3 separate regions of the Homo sapiens genome follow, and regions 1 and 2 are each linked to region 3. The links come from fine-mapping of genetic effects on gene expression. A gene starts in region 3. Each other region holds a variant in brackets. All regions are shown on one strand. Distances are between the middles of the regions.

The links. PIP is the estimated chance that this variant, and not a neighbour inherited with it, causes the effect.
Region 1: its variant is fine-mapped to the expression of ITIH2 in tibial nerve (GTEx, PIP above 0.99).
Region 2: its variant is fine-mapped to the expression of ITIH2 in tibial nerve (GTEx, PIP above 0.99).

What each region holds. Positions count from the first base shown.
Region 1 is chr10:7,752,279-7,757,555 of GRCh38, forward strand. KIN (Kin17 DNA and RNA binding protein) reads right to left here. Exons shown (of 13, transcript NM_012311.4): 13 at 1-3,864. The coding sequence ends at 3,802. Among named protein-coding and RNA genes, the nearest start is that of KIN, 33 kb to the right of the region's middle. The variant A/G (reference allele first, on the strand shown) is at 3,189.
Region 2 is chr10:7,832,466-7,837,775 of GRCh38, forward strand. The region is part of intron 2 of TAF3 (TATA-box binding protein associated factor 3); the gene reads left to right. Among named protein-coding and RNA genes, the nearest start is that of TAF3, 17 kb to the left of the region's middle. The variant A/G (reference allele first, on the strand shown) is at 2,517.
Region 3 is chr10:7,701,066-7,706,065 of GRCh38, forward strand. It overlaps ITIH2 (inter-alpha-trypsin inhibitor heavy chain 2), which reads left to right and starts at 2,251. Exons shown (of 21, transcript NM_002216.3): 1 at 2,251-2,453; 2 at 4,043-4,117. The coding sequence starts at 2,370.

The sequences.
Region 1 (5,277 bases), 51 kb after region 3:
TCACCAGAGAAGATATACAGGTGGCAAATAAGCCCATGAAAAGATGCTCCACATCATACTTCATCAAAGAAATGCAAATTAAAGCAATGACAAGATCCCACTGTACAGCTATTAAGATGGCCAAAATCCAGAACACTGACAACATCAAATGCTGACGGAGATGCAGAGCAGCAGGAACTCTCATTCACTGCTCGTTTGAATACAAAATGGTACAGTCACTCTGGAAGACAGGTTGGTAGTTTCTCAGAAGACTCCTGGCATATGATCCAGCAATTGTGCTCTTTGGTCGTTACGTAAATAAGTTGAAAACGTCTATCCACAAAAAACCTGCGCACAGATGTTTGTAGCAGCTTTACTCATAATTTCCAAACCTTGTAAGCAACCAAGATATCCTTCAGTAGGTGAGTGCATAAACTGTGGTGCATTCAGACAATAGAATATGCAGTGCTAAAATGAAGTGCGCTATCGAGCCACAAAAACCTAACCAAAACAACATGGAGGAACCTTACATGCATATGTTCTACCAGGTGAAAGAAGCCAATCTGAAAAAGCTACACCCTGTGTGACTCCAACTATATGACCTTCGATGGAGACAAAACTAGGGAGACAGTAAAAAGATCAGCGGTCAGCAGGGATTTGGGGGGAGACAGGGAACAGACAGAACACAGGAAACTTCTAGGGCAGTGAAACTGTTCTGTGTGATACTACAGTGGCAGATGCATGTCATTATACATTTGTCAAAACCCACAGAGACTGCTCTAAAAAGTAAAGTCTATGTTTGAAATAAAGAAAAATAGCTTATGATACTTCAAAAATCAAAGTCTAATATGAGACCTGTTGTTAGTTATCTGCAGTCATTTTGCTTAGCATAAACTCTATCAAGTTCTACAGACTCAGAGGGAAAAAACTACTGTGAAGTCTATAATCGTATTTTTATGCTTCAGATATTTTTTATTGAATTTAACCTCAAGTATGCTGCCTCATTTCATTCTGAAATAATTTCAGAAAGACGTTGGAGAATTAAATGTGGGAGGCAGACATGAAACATTTTTTCTCTGAAGAAAACCACCAAGTTGATTCCAAACGTACATACTTGGGGGAGGCATATGTAATTTGTCTGGTTTTACTCATCACTATTTGTTATCAGGGAGAACCATTCTCCTTTTTGAAATTCTTCAGACCAGATTCTTAGTAGTCCAGGCTCAACTTCTTGGCTTCATTTCTGGACATGACCACTCACTGCCATTTATTCAATACCTACTATGTGCTGGACTTCATGTCTGATGATTTATATGTATTTTCTGTAGGTCTCCCATCAACCCTGCTGAAAAACATTTTGACAATTTATACATTAAAAACATTGCAATTCAAGAACATTAACATTCTAATATTACAAAGCCAATGAACAGAACTGCCAGAATTTGATCTAAAGACTGCCCACACCCAAAACCCAGTTGCTTTCCATAATGTGCTGTCAGGTTACTTTGGAAAAACCTTAATTCATCCCTGAGGAACATTTTCTGTAAAGCTTCTGCCATCATCCTATTAGTATTTCTTTACTGCCTCTTACATTTCTGCTAACAGCATACGTTCTCCCATCTTCTGAGAATAGAAGCAATCAGCCCTCCCTGACTCTCAGTTAAAGAGAGAGATCCCAGGGTTTGGCACCATACCTGTGTCTGACGTCAGCTTATACCCATCCTCATGTTTGAAGTGATCATCCTGGTATGGTCTGTTTTTTGTTTGAACTCTTGTAGAAGATCAACTCAGGCAAGGCGTGGTAGCTCACACCTGTAATCACAACATTTTAGAAGGCCGAGGCAGGAGGATTGCTTGAGCTCAAGAGTTTGAGACCAGCCTGGGCAACATAGCAAGACCTCATCTCTACTAAAAATCAAAAAAATTAGCCAGGCATGGTAGTGCATGCCTGTAGTCCCAGCTACTCGGGAGGCTGAGGTGGGAGAATCAATGACCTAAGCCCAGGAGGACGAGGCTGCAGTGAGCCATGATTGTGCCACTGCACTCCAGGCTGGATGACAGAGCAAGACCCTATCTCAAAAAACAGAACAAAAAAAAAGAGGCGTAGTGGCTCATGCCTGTAATCCCAGCACTTTGGGAGGCTGAGGCGGGCAGATCATAAGGTCAAGAGATCGAGACCATCCTGGCCAACATGGTGAAACCTCATCTCTTCTAAAATTACAAAAATTAGCTGGGCGTGGTGGCGCATGCCTGTAGTCCCAGCTACTCAGGAGGCTGAGGCAGGAGAATGGCTTGAACCCGGGAGGTGGAGGTTGCAGTGAGCCGAGATTGCACTACTGCAATCAGCCTGGGTGACAGAGTGAGACTCTGTGTCAGAAAAAAAAAAAAAAAGAAAAAGAAAAGATAGATCATCTCTCTCTTCCCGGTGCTGCTGAAGGGTAAGATGTAAACCTAGAGTGCTCAAGAATGTAAATGTAGAGAGCCAGCACAGGAGCCAGAGACAGAGCGGAAGCCCAGGGAAGGCTGTTCACACCCGGTCCCGCTGCCCTGGAAGCTAGCGTCTGCTCCTTTCAGTCATGTGCACTACAAATATCCCTTCGTTTTTCCTTTGGCACAGGCAAATGTGGGTTTCCTGTCTTTTGCATTCCCTAATAATACACTGCCCTACTTATTTCAAACTGTATGGTTAGGCAGGGTGCTGTGGCTCACACCTGCAATCCTAGCACTTTGGGAGGCTGAGGCAGGAGGATCACTTGAGCCCAGGAGTTTGACAGCAGCCTGGGCAACACAGTGAGACCATGTCTCTAAAAGTAAAAAAATTAAAAACAAATAAAACTATAGTTCAACATTGCTGGTAGGACTGTAAAATGGTATAGCTGCTCTGGAAGAGTTTGGCAGAAGCGAAAGCTTCTGTTCACATAAAATCCTGTAAATGGGTGATCATGGCAGCATTATTCACAATAGCCAAAAAGTAGAAACAATCTAAATGTTTATCAGCTGATGAATGGACAAACAAAATACGGTACATCCATACAGTGGAATATTAAGCAGCCATAAAAACAAATGAAGCACGCCTACATGCTACTGCATGGATAAACCTTGAAAACATGATGCTAAGTGTAAGAAGCCAGTCATAAAAGATCACATATTATATGATTCCATTTATAAGAAATGTCCAGAAAGGGCAAATCCATAGAGACAGAAAGTAC[A/G]TTAGTGGCTGTCTAGGGCTAGGGCAGAGGGGAAAAATAGCGATTGACTATTAAAGGGTTTCATTTTGGGGTATGAAAGTGTTTTAAAATCAGACAGTGGTGATGGCTGCACAATTCTGCAAAAATACTAAAAACCACTGAATTGTATGTATATTTTAAATGAGTGAACTGTATGGTATATGAATTATTACCACAATAAAGCTGCTTCTATATTTATAGTTTGACATTTAAAATTTAGTCACACTTAGAGTTCAACTTTACTACTCTACTACTGAAAATATAGAGTGTATGAAGGATTTCCTCCAATTACATGATTCTAAATTGTCATAGATAAAACACTTTATAATAACATTCTTTAATGAAGATATAAACTCATCAAGTAAATTACAAAGGAAACAAAAATAACAAGGACAAAATTACATAGTTTGATACCTCATGAGACATAATTAAATTCTTCTCAAAGTTTAGCTGAACAACTATACAGTAATATTTTCAAAAACCTGTTTGTTTTATACAAAAGAATATACCCTAACACAGTAGAGTCTCATAATGCCTTGGCGAACACCAATTTGATGCTTTAAGATTTTAATGTATTGTTAACAAATTTTCAAACTCAGGCAAGTTTAGAAATGTCTTCATATTGAATTCCTTCAACTCTGCGTCCTTTTAAAGGGCCCTACAAATTAAAATAATTTAAAATAAGGTTAAAAACACATATTCCTAAAAGACAAAAAAATGACACCATACTTATGGATACAAATTTGCCTTTTCCGCATCCCTAAAATACCATTAAGATTGTTAACATTTGTATACATCTATGAATTTTAAGAATAATCTATGGCATTCTCATTAAGAACTACCATATTTTCTTCTGTGACATCTGACATACGTTATCAATAGACATTGTGGCAGAGACCTGCAAGCTGTTCAGTATCTCCTCTGCTTCCTGGATAAATAGCCAGTTTCCTGGCTCCCTTGTGGTTAGCTGTGGCCATGCATGGAGCTCCAGCCCATGAAAGCAAACAGAAGTGACGGTCCAGACGTGCTATAACTGACACACAATCTGCCAAGCTCCTTTTGCCTGCCCAGTGCACACAGACATGGCAACTGGAGATGCCACTTGAGGGCAGTAGAGGCACTAGCTGGAAGGACCCTGGGTTCACAAATCGCCACTTAGAAAGAGTTCCCTGATCAAAAATACCCATTTGGGGTTTTTAGAGTGAAACGTTAACTTCTACCATGTTTGTGCCATTGTCCATTTGGGGTTTTCTTTTTTTTATAGGAAATATCATTTTGTAAGCATTACGATACTCAAACATGTTTGTCTAGGTTGGCTGTGATAGTTACACTGGTCCAGATTATAAAAAGAGTCCAACTTTAACTTTATTTTCTTCTTTCATATCGAACAAAAAGGGAAAGAGGAAAACTTAATTAATGAAAGATATTTTCTATCACAAAAGCGGATATAACCTGGGAACACAGAGGCTAAGAATATGGGCTGTGAACCTACACTCCCCAAGTTCAAATCTCACTTTCAACAATTGATTTAACCTCTCTGTCCTTCAGTTTCCTCTCTGTGCCTTATTATCTCCCAGTGGAAATAATGGTAATGTCTGTATGATTGGGTTGTTGGGAAATATAAATGAGTTATTTCATATAAAGTGACTAGACCTGGAACTTAATATGAGTGAGAGCTCAATAATTTTCAACTCTAATTATTATTTAATCTTTTGTTTAAAATTTGAGAGTTGGGTCGGGCGCAGTGCTCACATCTGTAATCCCAGCACTTTGGGAGGCCGAGGCAGGTGGATCACCTGAGGTCAGGAGTTTGAGACCAGCCTGACCAACATAGTGAAACCCTATCTCTACTAAAAATATAAAAATTAGCTGGGCATGGTGGCACACACCTGTAATCCCAGCTACTTGGGAGGCTGGAGCAGAAGAATTTCTTGAACCCGGAGGCAGAGGTTGCAGTGAGCTGAGATCGCGCCATTGCACTCCAGCCTGGGCGACAGAGTGAGACTCTGTCTTGAAAATAAATAATAAAATAAAATAAAATTAAATTAAATAAAATTAAAATTAAATTTGA
Region 2 (5,310 bases), 130 kb after region 3:
AAAAGCACACCACAATGTGTAGTAATTACATCAGACTAAATTGGATATTTACCACCTGAAGCATTTATCATTTCTTTCTTATTTATTTATTTATTTTTGAGACAGTCTCGCACTGTCACCCAGGCTGGAGTGCAGTGGTGTGATCTCAGCTCACTGCAAGCTCCATCTCCTAGGTTCAAGTTTAAGTGATTCTTGTGCCCCACCCTCCCCAGTAGTTGGGATTACAGGTGCCCACCACCACACCCGGCTAATTTTTGTGTTTTTAGTAGAGATGCGATTTCACCATGTTGGCCAGGCTGGTCTGAAACCCCTGGCCTCAAGTGATCTGCCCACCTCAGCCTCCCAAAGTGCTGGGATTACAGGCATGAGCCACTGCACCTGGCCCAGCATTTATCATTTCTTTGTGCTACAGATATTCCAGTTATACTCTTTTAGTTATTTTTAAATGTACAGGGTGCAGTAGCTCACACTTGTAATCTTGTCACTTTGGGAGTCTGAGGCAGGAGGATGATTTGAGGCCAGGAGTTCGAGATAAAATGTTCAATAAATTATTGTTGACTTTAGTCACCCTGTGGTGCTATTAAAGGCTGAATAGTATTCTGTGGTGTATATATATTACATTTTCTTTATCCACTCATCTGTTAATGGACACTTAGGTTATTTCTGTAACTTGGCTATTGGGAACAGTGCTGCAGTGAACTTGGGAGAGCAGAATCTCTTCCACATAATCTTTTCAAATCTTTTGGGTAAATACTCAGGAGTGGGGTTGCTGGATTATATGGTAATTCTATTTTGAGTTTTTGGAGGAAACTCCACATAGTTTTCCATGACTACTAATCTAAATTCCCACCAACAGTGTACAAGGATTCCCCCTTTTCTCCACATCCCTGCTAACACTTGTTACCTTTCATCTTTTTTATAGCAGCCATTCTAACAGGTGTGAGGTAATATCTCACTGTGGTTTTATTTCTGTAATGATTAGTAATGTTGAACATTTTTTCATGTATTTGTTGGCAGTTTGTATGTCTTATTTTGAGGAATGTCTATTCATTTTTTATTGGATTATTTCTTTCTGTAGGGTTTTCTTTTTTCCTTTTTTGGGGACCCAGCAATACTGCTGATTTATTACAAGTCCCCAAGAGGGCTTCAGTTTTTCTTTTCAACATCCTGTTCTGTAGCTTCCATGTCTCTTTTTGTCCATATGTGGAGGAGCCAGGCATTGGCACGGGCCATGCAGCAACTAGCAAAGGCTCTGAAATTCTTCTCCTCAGTGGTGACTTGAGCTTTCTCCTTCTCATAGACATTCTGGATGGGCATGACTGGTCCTGTCAGCTGGGTGGCCAATTGCAGTTCTTCAGCAGAACTGTCTCCCTTCCTGGGGACCGAGGGCTTCCTGGGGAAGAGGATGAGTTTGGAGCGGTACCCCTTCAGCCGCTGCACAGTGCGTGTGGAAGTGGGGCTTCAAGATCTTGCCATTCCCGCTGGGCACCATGGCTGCCTGCTGTCCTCCGGCACAGGACAACAGCCAGACTGTTCTTTCTATAGAGTTGTTTGGGTTCCTTATATATTTTGCCTTTTTTTTTGGTGGTGGTTGTGGCTCTTGTTGTTGTTGAGTTGCTTACATGTTTTGGGCGTGAGCCCCTTGTCAGATGTGTGGGTGCACGTGTTTTCCTCCTCACCCACAGGTTGTGCCTTCACTCTGCTGTTTCCTTTATTGTGCCAAAGCTTTTTATTTTGATGGAATCCCATTTGTTCAGTTTTGCTTTTGTCACCCTGCGCTTTTGGGGCCAAATATAAAAAATAATTGCCCAGACCAGTGTCTTACAGTTTTTCCCCTATGTTTTCTTTTAGCAGTTTTGTAGTTTCAAGTCTTACATTTAGGTCTTTATTCCATTTTGAGTTGATTTTTCTAAGTGGTATGAGATAAGGATCCAATTTCATTCTTCTGCATATGGATATCCAGTTGTCTCCACGCTGGGAAATAGCATTTCAAGTACACAGTCTCGGTGCTAAGGGATACTTATTATATATAACTCGGTTGTTCATTGTTTCTAGGCAATAAGTAAATAAATATTTATATACATGTAGATGTGTGTGAATAGATAGATAGGTGGATAGGGTTCCTCCTGAGTTCATGCAGATTTTCCAATTCATATTTAGGACTACAAGGTTTTTATTTTTTATGTTACATCCATAAATACTGTCATCCATACTGAGAATTCTGGTTCTCAGGAATAAAGAAGATGATAAAATTAGAATATTCCATAATTATTCATTTGCTTTATCCCAGATTACACGTACAATATTGCAACTGATACTATCATTCATGATTACTGAAACAGGTAAAAAAAATTTTTTTTGCTCATTCTGTCCTATGAAACCAATTTTCTTTCATTTTACCGTGTGTATCTTGTCAGATCATATAGCTACTGTCTTGAGTTCTGCTACCTAATTTCTGAGTTTTTTCTGATTTTGATTTATATACTTTCATGTCTTTTAGATCATTTCAAGATAGA[A/G]CATTATAGGTTCATCAGTTTTTTCGAGTGTGTGTTTCTCTCGTACTTTCATTGTCTGGAGGGATGTTTTGCTATTTAGTCTTCTCTTCTTTATAGAAACTATATGTGAGTTAGTTTTCTGAGCCTTTAGAACACAGGTGTCCAATCTTTTGGCTTCCCTGGGTCACACTGGAAGAAGAAGGATTGTCTTTGGCCACACATAAAATACACTAACACCATCGATAGCTGCTGAGCTAGAAAAAAAAGTCACACACAAAAAAGTCATAATGTTTTAAGAAAGTTTACAACTTTGTGTTGGGCTGCATTCAAAGCCGTCCTGGGCCGCATATGGCCCATGGGCTGTGGGTTGACAAGCTTGCTTTAGAAGGAGATTCAGGGTAGCTCCTCTGACTTTGCAGTGCTCCCTCTTCTATCGTTTTTGCGGAATGTTCCAAATATGGGAACTTGCTCACTGAGATTTTTTGTTTGTTTTCCTCCACCACTTTTACCTGGATCTTCTCTTCCCTTCATGTCAGTTTTCCTTTTTCTGGCCAGCTGTGATTCCACTGCCAGCTGTGTCCTCTCAGCGAGGCTCTGTCCTGGCAGAGAGCAGCCAGGGTCAAGTCTGAGAGCTCCTGGGCTCAACTTCTAGCCCCATTGGATCTCACTCAGCCCCTTGTACTCCCTGTACTGGAAGTGGTCCCATCCTTCCCAGCCTCAGCCGCTCTTCTCGGGTTGGCCTGCCGGGCTTTCCAGCAGAGGCCTGGTGGCCCTTTTGGGGTTTTCCTGTTTCAGGTCAGTCTTCCCGTTGCTTCTCACTGTTTCCCTTGCATAGATGCCTCATACTCGGGTCTCATGGCGCTTGGTGGCATGTTGTCACCTGCATGTATTTTGGCACTGATGGGTGTACTCTGTCACCTGGTTATGTTGGGAAGATGCACAAACTACCTTGCCCCAGCTACCACTTTCTTCCCAGGATTCCCCTTATTGAAGCTTTTTGCTGCTTTCATCACTGTTGGGCAATTCCTGAAGCTGCTTTTCTTCAGCGCCATCATACTCCCTTAACTCTCCTTATATGATGAGCTCCATCTTGGGGCCTTTCTTGGGCACGTCTTCCCTGGCTCTCCTACTGCTAAAACATTGGTGCTTCTAAAATTTTATCCTTCACCTACTATGTTTCTCACGTTACTTAGTTTCAGAGTTGACTTTCCTACTCTCATAGTTTGAACCCCCATCTGTATGCTGATGCCTCCCCAAACTGTCCCTCTACATCCACCTCTCAGACCCTGCAACCAGTTGCAGTTGGCCATTTCCACGTTTTCTTTTTTCTTTCTTTTTTTTTTTTTTGAGACGGAGTTTCGCTCTTGTTGCCCAGGCTGGAGTACAATGGCACAACCTCCGGCTCCCTGGTTCAAGTGATTCTCCTGTCTCAGCCTCCCGAGTACCTGGGATTAGAGGCATGAGCTACCAAGCCCAGCTAATTTTGTATTTTCAGTAGAGACGGGGTTTCTCCATGTTGGTCAAACTGGTCTTGAACTCCCGACCTTGGGTGATCTGCCCACCTTGGCCTCCCAAAGTGCTGGGATTACAGGCGTGAGCCACTGCACCCGGCCCATTTCCACATTTTCTTACCACGAATACACCTGTGTTATCCATCTCAGTTGGTGGCACCATCTCTACTCAGTCACCTAAGCTAGAAACATGAGAATTAGCATTGACCTCTTCTCTCATTCTCCTTCATTCCCTATCTCTAATTCTGCTAATTTTCTTTCTTAAAAAATTTCCAAAATATTATTGCATCACTTCCTTTGTTTAAACCTTTATCTCTTGTCTGAACTGTCCTTATCCTCTAAACGAAACTATTAGACAAAAAATTAACACATCCCACATTATAAAACACTTTGTTGGCTCTCCAACTGCTTACAGTTACCAAAAATACCTATGGAGAGGAGTTTTCTTTTTTGCATCAAAATGAAAAGAGCTTTGGTTGAGTGTGATGGCTCATGCCTATAATCCCAGCACTTGGGAGGCCAAGGCAGGAGGATCGTTTGAGCCCAGGAATTTGAGACCAGCCTGGACAACATAGTGAGACCTTGTTTCTATAAAAAATTTAAAAATCTGGCCAGGCGTGGTGGCTCACACCTGTGATCCCAGCACTTTGGGAGGCCAAGGTGGGCAAATTGCTTGAAGTCAGGAGTTCAAGACCAGCCTGGCCAACAGGGTGAAATCCTGTCTCTACTAAAAATACAAAATTTAGCTGGACATGGTGGCATGGGCCTGTAGTCCCAGCTACTCGGGAGGCTGAGGCAGGAGAATTGCTTGAACCAGGGAGGTGGAGGTTGCAGTGAGCCGAGATTGCACCACTGTGCTCCAGTCTGGGCAAAAAAAAAAAAAAAAGTCAGCTGGGTGTGGTGGCTCATGCCTGTAATTTCAGCACTTTGAGAGGTTGAGGCGGGCTGATCACTTGAGGCCAGGAGTTCAAGACCAGCTTGGCCAGCATGGCGAAACCTCGTCTCTACTAAAAATACAAAAATTAGCTGGGCGTGGTGGTGCGTGCCTGTAATCTCATCTACTCGGGTGGCTGAGGCACAAGATTTGCTTGAACCTGGGAGGCAGAGGTTGCAGTGATCTGAGATTGCACCAGTGTACTCCAGCCTGGGCAAAAGAGCAAGACTCTGTCTCAGAAAAAATAAAAAATAAAACAATTAGCCAAGAGTGGTGATGTAAGCCTGAGAGGCTGAGGTGGTGTAAGTACTCAGAGGCTGAGGTAGGGGGATCACTTGAGTCTGGGAGGTTGAGGCTGAGGCTGCAGTGA
Region 3 (5,000 bases):
GAGGGGTTGGCAGTGGGGTGGGGAGTGCAAGGGGAAAGGGTCTCAGGTTCAAGACTCAGTAGCCTGAATACACAGCCTACGCGGTCGTGCTTCTGAACATTGAGAGAGAGAGCAAATGTTGTTTTGTTTTGTTTTGTTTTCAAGAATTTGGGATCAGGCTGAGCACAGTGGCTCACGCCTATAATCCCAACACTTTGGGAGGCTGAGGCAGGTGGATTACTCGAGGTCAGGAGTTTGAGACCAGCCTGACCAATATGGTGAAACCCCATCTTTACTTTAAAAAAAATAATACAAAGTTAGTTGTGGTGGTGCACGCCCGTAATTCCAGCTACTTGGGAGGTTCAGGCAGGGGAATCGCGTGAACCTGGGAGGTGGAGGTTGCAGTAAGCCAAGATCATGCCATTGCGCTTGAGTCTGAGCCACAGAGTGACGCTCCCTCTCAAAAAAAAAAAAAAAAAAGGACTTTGGGATCTGAAGACAGAGTATCAGCATGGAAAAAAGTCCAGCCTGCTTTTGGTTTGGTTTATTCTGAGATAATTCTGAATATCAGATTAAAATAATCAGAAAGGAAATGATCAATGGAAGGAGGTATGATTTTGAAAGTCACTGCTGTTTTTGGGAGAACATGCCATTGGGTTTTTTATTATTTATTTATTTTTTTCTTTTGAGACCAAGTCTTGCCCTGTTGCCCAGGTGGAATGCAGTGGCGTGATCTCAGCTCACTCTAACCTCCGCCTCCCCAGTTCAAGCAATTCTCATGCCTCAGCCTCCCAAGTAGCTGGGATTACAGGCGCATGCCACCACACCTGGCTAATTTTTGTATTTTTAGTAGAGACGGGGTTGCACTATGTTGGCCAGGCTGGTCTCAAACTCCTGACCTCAGGTCATCCACCCGCCTCAGTCTCCCAAAGTGCTGGGATTACAAGTGTGAGCCACCGCGCCCAGCTGCCATTGGGTCTTAATTCTCCAGAAACAGTATCTCAGTCAAGAATGCAAAGCTGTGGCAGGATTTTTCCATGAGGGGTCCACTGAGGCACTCACTGGCCAAGGTGGGCGCTCAACTAGTCCAACCTAGGCAAGGGAGGGGAGAATCTGTTTTCTCCCTTCCATTATTTCAGAAGTTATGTTTCTCCAGCAGACACACGGCTGTGCAATTTCGAAGACTGAGGGGAAACTAGGGAGGAAAATGCAGAAAACTCTCTGTTGCATGCCCTGTGAATTGGGCTTTAAATGTAGCAAGGAGCTCCAGGATCCCAGAAGTTGGCCTGGGGTGCTTGGTCCTGAGGATAAGACAACCTCCCTTGTATTGTAATTCTGCCCACAGCTGGAGCTTCCTATTTCAGTGTTGCATCCAAGAAGTTACATTTCCTGTTTGTTGCAAGAAAAATAGAATCTGACCAGGATGGAGGCTAGGCATGGGGGCTCACATCTGGAATCCCAGCAGTTTCGGAGGCTGAGGCAAGCAGATAGCTTGAGCCCAGGTGTTCAAGACCAGGATGAGCAACATGATGAAATCCCATCTCTACAAAAAATAGCCAGGCAGTGTAGTGCACACCTGTAGTCCAGCTACTCTGGAGGCTGAGGTGGGCAGATTGCTTGAGCCGGGGGAAGTTGAGGCTGCAATGAGCTTTGATCTCACCACTGCACTCCAATTCTGAGACTGGGGAGTATTGATTTGCCACTGACCTGAGCCCGGCTGATAGGGGCAGCAGGACAGACACTGTTACCTTAATCAAAGACATTCACGAAGCATTCTCACTGAAGATCTGCCCTAGTATCCTGCACAGCCACTTGCCTGGGTCTTTATAGGTAACAGGTAGACAGTCATCAAAGAGATAGGGGAAAACATGCACAATGAATTCTTTGCTCAGAAAAACCCTTCTGTGTCTTCTCCCACTTTTTCTAAATTTTTCCTGCTTTCATTTAGATCAAAGGATTTTGTTTCTTGGAATAGTTCTGCACTTGGTCCTTTAGAAAGGATGACAATTATCTGTAGGTCTCTCTGATTTTAAGATCAATAGAAATCAGCAAAAGCCAAAAAATAAAAAATAAAAATAAAATAAAAGCACACAAGCACATTCAAGCACATCCATCTGCCCCTGACTTGTCCTCACAGTAAGCAACTGCTTCTGACTTTGCTGTTTGAATAACCTCTGGGTGTTCGATCCACCCACACAGCTCAAGTTTGAGCTCCAGAACAAATATTTGTCCCAATTTTGAACAAAGTTAGAGAGTTTTTTCTTCTTTTTTCTTCTTTCTTAAAGCGAACTGTACTCCTCTGCTGTTCCTTTGAACTTGGTTCAGTAGGAAGAAGTGATATCCTCCCCAGACCATCTGCTTTGGGGAGCTTGGCAAAACTGTCCAGCAAAATGAAAAGACTCACGTGCTTTTTCATCTGCTTCTTTCTTTCTGAAGTATCAGGCTTCGAAATCCCCATAAATGGACTTTCTGAAGTAAGTACTTACAGATCACTCCTTGCTGTTGGCTTGTTCATGAGCTCAGTAAATCATCTATTGGAATCGCTATTCAATGGCCTTATTCTGTGTGTAATGGAAACTTAAGATAAAATTCATCTGAGTGCAAGTGTTTACTGTTATAATTACTGGAATGTATATTTACCTTTTAAAGCATTAACAGGTTTTGCATGAAAATTAAGTCAAGATCAATGGGCAGGCATCAGAGCGTAGCATTTATGGAGCAGAGCTGCTCACTCCTCACCTAAAAAATTGGGGGTAAGAATAGACCTAACCCAATGGTTTGCTTTGAGAATTAAATGACACAGTGTAAACTCTTCTAGCAGAGCGCCTGGACTAGTAAGTGCTTAATAATTACTAGCTGTTATGATGATGAAGAAATATTATCACTCTTTTACTAAGAGTATAAGAAAAGTCATTATCAAAGCACACTGTTTTTCATATCTAAGTGAACAGTGATATTTGTAATAAGAGCACTTTAAGTATTCCTATTAAAGCGGAAGATAGCAGGCAGGGTGGAAAAGTACAAGAATAATTCCCATGGAGTACAGGTCTCCACTTTTGTCCCTTAGCCATCTCCAATGTAAGGAAAGTCTTGGACTGAAAGTCTGTTTCTGAAAGTCATACAAGAGCTATTTTTATGCCAGAAAAGCGAAGCATGTTATGGGAACATCCCAGCAAATGCAAAGGCTTATAATACTTGCAGAGTGGATTACCTATAAAAATGCCAGAGAATATGACGGCATATTTACAAAGGGAAAATATCACTCTGTCTGCTTTGAAACTATCATATTTTCCAACACTTAAAAGCCACCAGAGTGTGTTAGAAATCTCAAATTGAAGCCAAGACATCCAAATGTGTTTGTGCTTTTTCAGTCATTTCTAACTGGCATTTCCTTTTAGAAAATACCTACATTTTTAACTTGGGGAGATGTATGGTTCATGTCTGTCCAGTCAGACACTGCAAATGCCTCCAGGGTCTACCCAGATACTTCCCCAGACACCCACCTAATCACTGGGTTGTTTTGATCTCTGTCTTACCACCTGCTGGCAAACTCAAAAATGAATTCCCATGTCCAACAAATGCGAAGGTGTTGTTACCCTCCATTTGGACACCTCTGAGACGTAACCAGCAAATAGAAATATACTAAAGAAATCATTTTATACAAAATTGTGATTGCCCAGAGGTAGAGGAAAGAATATAAAATAATGAATACCAACAGCTATCTCTTTGGCTCTAGATCTTTTGGAAATCATCATTCTCAGCAAAGTAACACAAGAAGGGAAAACCCAACACCGCATGTTCTCACTCATAAGTGGGAGTCGAACAACGAGAACACATGGACACAGGAAGGGGAACATCACACACTGGGGCCTGTCAGGGGGTGGGGGGCTAGGGGAGGGATAGCATTAGGAGAAATACCTGACGTAAATGATGAGTTAATGGGTGTAGCAAACCAACATGGCACATGTATACCTATGTAACAAATCTGCACGTTGTGCACATGTACCCCAGAACTTACAGTATAATTAAAAAAAAAAAAGTTAAAATCCTAATTTTTTTTAAGTTTGTAGACTATGAAGATCTTGTGGAACTGGCCCCAGGCAAATTTCAATTGGTGGCAGAGAACCGGAGATATCAGGTATAGTAAGGTTTACTCCCAAAAGGGGGAAAAAAAGTGAAAGAGATTATGGCAGAAGAAGACAAGTGTTAAGATGCCTTCTGCTAGATTTTCTTAAGAGTTTGTTTTTTAGCACAGAAGAGTCCAGACTTCTTACACCTTGGTGGAAGAGATCACCCAGGTGAAATAAAAAGAGAAACTCACACAACTGCTCAGCAGCCTTCACACCATAATGCTCAATTTAGTCCCTTAAAGAGTACACGACTCAGCACAGTGGCTCCCACTTATAATCACAGCATTTTCAGAGGCCAAGGAGGGAGGATCACTTGAGGCCAGGAGTTCCAGATCAGCCTGGGTAACATAGTGAGGCTCTACCTCTGCCACCCAGCTAATATATATATTAGCTGGCATGCACCTGTAATCCCAGCTATTTGAGAAGCTGAGATGGAGGATCACTTGAACCCAAGAGTTCGAGGCTGCAGTGAGCTATGATTGCACCAGCCTGGGCAACAGAGGGAGACGCTGTCCCCACTCCATTTAAAAAAAAAAAAAAAAAAAAGAATACATGGCTATGTGTTTTCTTCAAAACTTAAGATTCCGAAATTATTTCCTGCCTTGCCGGAAGGATTTCCTGTTAGGAAGACTTTTCTTATTTTAGCGATGACAGACACTCCCCCTTGCAGCCTCACAATCTCCTTCCTCTGGTCACTCTGAGGGCACCTGAGAAGGAGAATTGGCCACATTGGAAGTTGCAATCCTGGCGGCCACCAGCAGCAGTATAGACAAAACCCTCTAATTAAGGGGGTGAGTTTTCCAGAACACCAGGAAGGGCTTGGCTTCTTCCCCACGGAGCCCACATGCTGAGAGAGGAGGTATTTACGGAAGCAGCAACCCTAAGCTGATC